Linked DNA regions of Homo sapiens: region 1 is linked to region 2. The links come from fine-mapping of genetic effects on gene expression. A gene starts in region 2. The other region holds a variant in brackets. All regions are shown on one strand. Distances are between the middles of the regions.

Region 1 (2,927 bases), 140 kb before region 2:
GCCAACTACAAGACAAAAGAGAGGCCTCAGAAGAAACCACCCCTGTCAACACCTTGATTTCAGACTTCTAGCCTCCAGAACTGTGAGAAAGTTAATTTATGTTGTTAGAAGAAAGTACCAGTCTAAGGACTTTATTATAGAAGCCCCAGCAAACTAATACAGAAAGCAAAAAAAAAAAAAAAAAAAAATCAGTGGCTGCCAGCGTTGAGAGAGGGAGAGGGATAAATAAGATGAAAAGAGCAAGATTTTTTAGAGCAGTTGAAACTATTCTGTATGATACTATAATAGTGGATTCATGATATTATGCATTTGTCATACCCATGGAAATTAATAGCACAAAGACTGATATTTGATATGTGCAAATTTTAAATGATTATTTAGAAGATCCTGGAATTGCAGCAAAAGAGTACAGATTGTGACAACACAATATAACTTTATTACAAATGTATGAAACAAATTCAAACATTAGGGGTGGGGAAAATGGTGCTGACCTAAGTAACTTTGAAAATGTATAGAGCCTTTAAGGATAAAGGCAAGAGTGACTCTACAAGAGAACTGCACTCTAGTTGGTAAACTTGTTCCCTAAGGAGACACAGGTTAACAGTTCTGCCACTGCTATAATTTACCCTAAAATTGAATAACTAAAGTCAGTGAATGGCTGAGGTAGGTGCTCACAGATAAGCAAAGGGAGAAGGCTAACATGATCCCTATGGTAATAGACTAGAGTTGGAGACATCAATATGAACTCCTGTGTATATTTACTATCACCTGAAATTTAGATACAGATGGTTACATATAGAAATATTTACAGATATGTGTATATTCGATGTTTGGTATATGTGTATATACTTTATTGCTCTGTGAGCTGAGAGGGCCTATAGGAAAGGACACTACAGTAGTAACATTCATAGCTAGTGCACCCCCGCCCCCCCGCCCCTGCACCTATCTTATTTTGTAGTGCTAGAAAGTAAAGAAGTACAAAAACAAAAACGCCCCACAACAACAAAAGAAACAACTTCACACTGATAGGAGTTTGTCCGATGGCACCGCCGAAATAATTTTGGTAACAAAACAGGATTGGATTATACCCTGATACAGTTTGGGTGTTGCCCCTGTTCAAATTTCATGTCCAAATGCAATCATTAATATTGGAGTTGGGACCTGGTGGGAGGTGATTGGATCAAGGAGGCAGGTTTCTCATGAATGGTTTAGTACCATCCTCTTGGTACTGTCCTTTCGGTAGTGGGTTCTTACAAGATCTGGTCTTTTAGAAGTGTGTAGTACTCACTCCCCCTTCCTCCTGCCTTGGCCATGTAATGTGTCTGCTCCCCCTTCACCTTCCGCCATGATGGTAAGTTTTCTGAGGCCTCTTTAGAAGCCAATCAGATGCCAGCATCATGCTTCCTTCACAGCCTGCAGAACCGTGAGCCAATTAAATCTCTTTTCTTTATAAGTTACCTAGTCTCAGGTATTTCTCTGTAGCAATGTGAGAACAGAATACTATATACCTCAAAGTATAAAATAAATTGACATGAGTCTTTAACAATATTGTTTTTTATGAAAGAATAATCTTGCTGAAAAAGCTGATGAATACCACTTCAGCCTGGTGATCAAGGTCAATATCAGCAGTCATAAATCATGTTGATAGTATTATATGTA[C/T]CATTGTTATGCTGAAATTATCTTTCTCTGTGACCTTTTATTCCCCAAAACCCATAACCTCTGTCTAATCCTCAGAAAAACATTAGACAAACCTCAATGAAAGGCATCTTACAACATAGCTGACCAATATTCCTCAAACTGTCAAGGTCATCAAAAATAAGGAAGCCTGAGAAACTGTCACAGCCAAGAGGAGCCCGAGGAGATAAAACAACTGAATGTAATGTAGAATCCTGGGTGGGATCTTGAAACAGAAAAAGGACATTAAGCCAAAACTAAGGAAAGCTTGAATAAAGTATAGGCATTTCAGGGAATAAAAATGTATCAATATTGGTTCATTAATTTTAACAAATGCACTATACTATTTAAGGTATTAATAATAAGGTTAATTGTTTGGGTGAGAACTCTCTGTATTATCTACCCAATATTTCTGTAAAACTAAAATTAGTCTAATGAGTAAAATCTCTAAATTTTTTTTAAAAAGTCTGATGTGTATTCTCCAAAGAAAATATACAAATAGCCAATGAGTGCGTGGAAAGTTTCTCAACATCATTTAGGCATTAGGGAAATGCAAATCAAAAACCATGATGAGATACCACAGCACACCCAGTAGGATGACTGTAAACAAAAGATAAACAAAAACAAGTGTTGGTGAGGGTATAGAGAAAGCAGAGCCCTTGTGCACTGCTACGAGGAATCTAAAATGGTTCAGCCACTTTGGAAAGCAGCTTGATAGCTCCTCAAAATTTTAAACGTGAGTTACCATATGACTCAACAATTCCATTCCCAGGCATTTGCCCAAGAAATTGAAAAGATATATTCACAAACATATTTGTGTAAAAATGTTCATAGCAGCCTTATTTGTAATAGCCATAAAAGTGAAAACAACCCAATGTCTGTAAGTGAATAGAAAAATGCAATGTGGTGTATTCACTCATACAATGGAACATTATTCAGCCATAAAAAAGAAGAAAGTACTGATATATGCTGCAATATGGATGAATCTTGAAAGCATTATGCTAAGTGAAAGAAGCCAGATACAAAATGCCACATATTATGTGATCCTATTTATACAAAACATCCAGAATATGCAAACCCTCAAAGAAAGAAAGTAGATTAGTGATGGCTGAGGAGATGGGGATGGGGATGGGCAGGTGATAGCTAAAGTGTACTGGATTTCTTTTTAGTGTTAACAAAAACGTTCTGGAATTAGGTAGTGGTAATGGTTGCACAAGCTTGTGAATATATTAAAAATCACTGAACTGTGCTTT
Region 2 (2,927 bases):
TATGTGCTTTTTAAACTGGTTTCTAGATCCCTCTCTAACATTGTGTGTTAAAGTGTGTATGAAGATGATTTGGAGGTATCTGTATGTGTGTGTTCTGCTGTTGAGAACATGATAATCATAATAAATAAGCAGTGCTTCAGGATCCATCTAAAATGGAGACAGGTAACTGTGCTACAGGCCCTGGTTCTCTTACAGAGGCTTTGCAAATGGTTTTAAGAATAATAATAACAACAATAAAGAGGATATTTCTTGGTTCAATTTAGTGTTCTAGGGATTTAAAGACTGATTTCTGGTAACCGCCTTTAGCAGATTATTAATTATAACAATAACAATCGTAACTCTTATTTGCTGAGCCCTCACTGTGTCAGGTAGTCATTATTCAGACAAATGTTAAAACAAGGAGGGCTGTGGTCATGAAGGGTGCATTTGCCTGAGGGGTAGCAAATGGCTGCTGTGCTTTGAACAAATGAGCGTGATCCAAATAGATAGGGGTGAGATTAAATATTTTAATTAGTCCCTCTTTACAATAAATAAGCATATGCAGAACCTATTGCCGGTGTTTTTGTTTTTTTTACTCACCAACGCTAGAAATGGTTGGAGGATTCACACCTACAAAAATCAAATGGTAGCTTATATTCTTCTAATTCAAAGCAGAGAGAACCTGTTTGCATTTTAACTAGGTGGAATCCGAACATTTATCATTTTGAATAGCCTTGTTATTTGTTCTGTCTTAGAAGTTGTGGATTATATTCTTTAAAATTAAGACAAGACTAAATGTAGCCTTAACAGTTAAGTTGAATTTTGAGATCCTGAACATGGCCCCATCTGAAATATTTTTAGTGAATTACAGCCTTTGAACATTGATCATCAGATTTGTTTTTATTTGAATCTTATTTTTACTTCTAGAGTTTATCTTATGCTTTAGTGTACTTAGGTGTACGGGTATAATCTTAATCTAATTAACAGTATTTTGTGACCTGAGACACCTGTCAAAGACCATTATAGAAGCTAGAAAACATTGGGAGGTAAACTGAACACATGGCCTCAGTTCTCTTCTTTAGCACTAGACTATGACTTGCACTCAAAAGAGGCTAAGAAAAAGAAAAATAACGTCCTTTGCCTTTAAAGTGTAATAAATGTGTTTTGCTATTAATAGCCCTTTTCAGTTTATAGACTGGAGGATTTTGTTTTAAGTATTTGAAACTAAATGCTGCTGGGAAAAAGATTTTAGTAGAAATATAGATATCTGTCCCTACCCTTTGTTAATTGATCCTGCTTAACTGGGGACATAATGTATGTCTACTGAAGAGAAATCTGTGGGCATAAACTCCTCCCTTCCTGTTGTCAAATATATTTCATATGTTATTATCTTGTTTAAATATACAGTAGACAAGAAAATGCAACTGCTGTTCCTTTAATATCAGAACTATGCATGTTACAATAGGTGTCACTGTTTTGCTTGGTCCAATCATGATTGGTGACTTCAGCTATTGGCTCGGAGCACTGGCTGTCTGACTCCATCTGCAGGGCTGTAATACCTACTCTCCTCCGATCCATTCACCACACAACTTCAGCCGGCTGAACAGACTCACGCAGCTCCAGCCCATCTTGCTGACCTAATTCAGAAAAGAAGTGCTACAGCTCTGTGCCTGTCATCTTTGCAGTGTAGCATTTTCAGGTGATCTAGGAAACAGTTATTTTTATGAGCAAATAAGAGAAACAGGAATCATGATGGGGATATATTTAACAGACCCAGTACTGGATAAAACTTAAAGCCAGTTTCTATTCAACATAGTGAAAAGGTCACCTTGCCTGGCTGAGAAAAGCAGCAAAATATCAGCTTTGTTGGTTTCAGTTAACCTCTTAGCCCGGGCTAATCTCTTTTCCTTGATGTTCAAACCAATTTGGGATATCTAACTCTAAAGAGAGACACACTGTACTCATGGTAGATGACAAGGAAAAGAACATGAAATGTCTCACCTTCTTCTTGATGCTTCCAGAGACGGTAAAGAACAGGTCCAAGAAAAGCTCAAAGAAAGCAAATACCAGCAGCAGCAGTAGCAACAGCAGCAAGTTGCCACCAGTTTGTTATGAAATAATTACCTTGAAGACTAAAAAGAAGAAGATGGCTGCTGATATATTCCCCCGTAAAAAGCCAGCCAACTCCAGCAGCACCAGCGTCCAGCAGTACCACCAGCAGAATCTCAGTAACAACAACCTTATCCCGGCCCCAAACTGGCAGGGTCTTTATCCCACCATTAGAGAGAGGTAAGTGCCGCGCTAGTCTATTTACTTTAAAAGTTTTCCTGTGTTGAAGTTTCTGCTTTTGCAAAACCTGTAATGTATTTGAACACAAATCTGTTTCCTCTTTTCCCAGAAGCTTTTTATTGGTAATGGAAAATTGCCTTGTATCTTTTCCAAAACAGTACAGCTGTTTTCCTCTTAGATAAAAATGTTTTTGCAAGCTGTAACATTCAAGTGACAGGGTTGTCTATGGGCCATAGAAAATGGGAACCTTTTATTTGTCCTTAGCTTTATTAAAAGTTTGTATAACTTTTATTTTAAACTTTAGTTACTTCCCTTATGTTTGCAATGATTATGAACAGTTTAGTTAGAACCTTTATTTGTTGTTTTGCCTTGAAGTTACTGGACTGTTGCTTAGCTTGCAAGTCTTTTGTGGGTTTTGTATGTTGGGGAAGGGGATGTTAAAAATGCAGGCTGCTGTGAATTAATGAGTTGCCTCTGTTTATAGAAATGCGATGATGTTCAATAATGATTTGATGGCAGATGTACATTTTGTGGTTGGGCCACCAGGTGGGACTCAACGGTTGCCAGGACACAAAGTAAGCAACAGCTGCATGACCGGTTTAGTCCTGACGTTTACAAAGAGGGACCCTTTCCATAAGCCTGTAACTTGGTGTGGGCAG

What was found. PIP is the estimated chance that this variant, and not a neighbour inherited with it, causes the effect.
Region 1: its variant is fine-mapped to the expression of BTBD3 in whole blood (INTERVAL, PIP 0.92).

What each region holds. Positions count from the first base shown.
Region 1 is chr20:11,774,446-11,777,372 of GRCh38, forward strand. No RefSeq gene overlaps it. Among named protein-coding and RNA genes, the nearest start is that of LINC00687, 95 kb to the right of the region's middle. The variant C/T (reference allele first, on the strand shown) is at 1,660.
Region 2 is chr20:11,916,334-11,919,260 of GRCh38, forward strand. BTBD3 (BTB domain containing 3) reads left to right here and starts at 1,560. Exons shown (of 4, transcript NM_014962.4): 1 at 1,560-2,268; 2 at 2,753-2,843. The coding sequence starts at 1,943. It overlaps BTBD3-AS1 (BTBD3 antisense RNA 1), which reads right to left and starts at 2,268. Exons shown (of 3, transcript NR_186407.1): 1 at 1,981-2,268.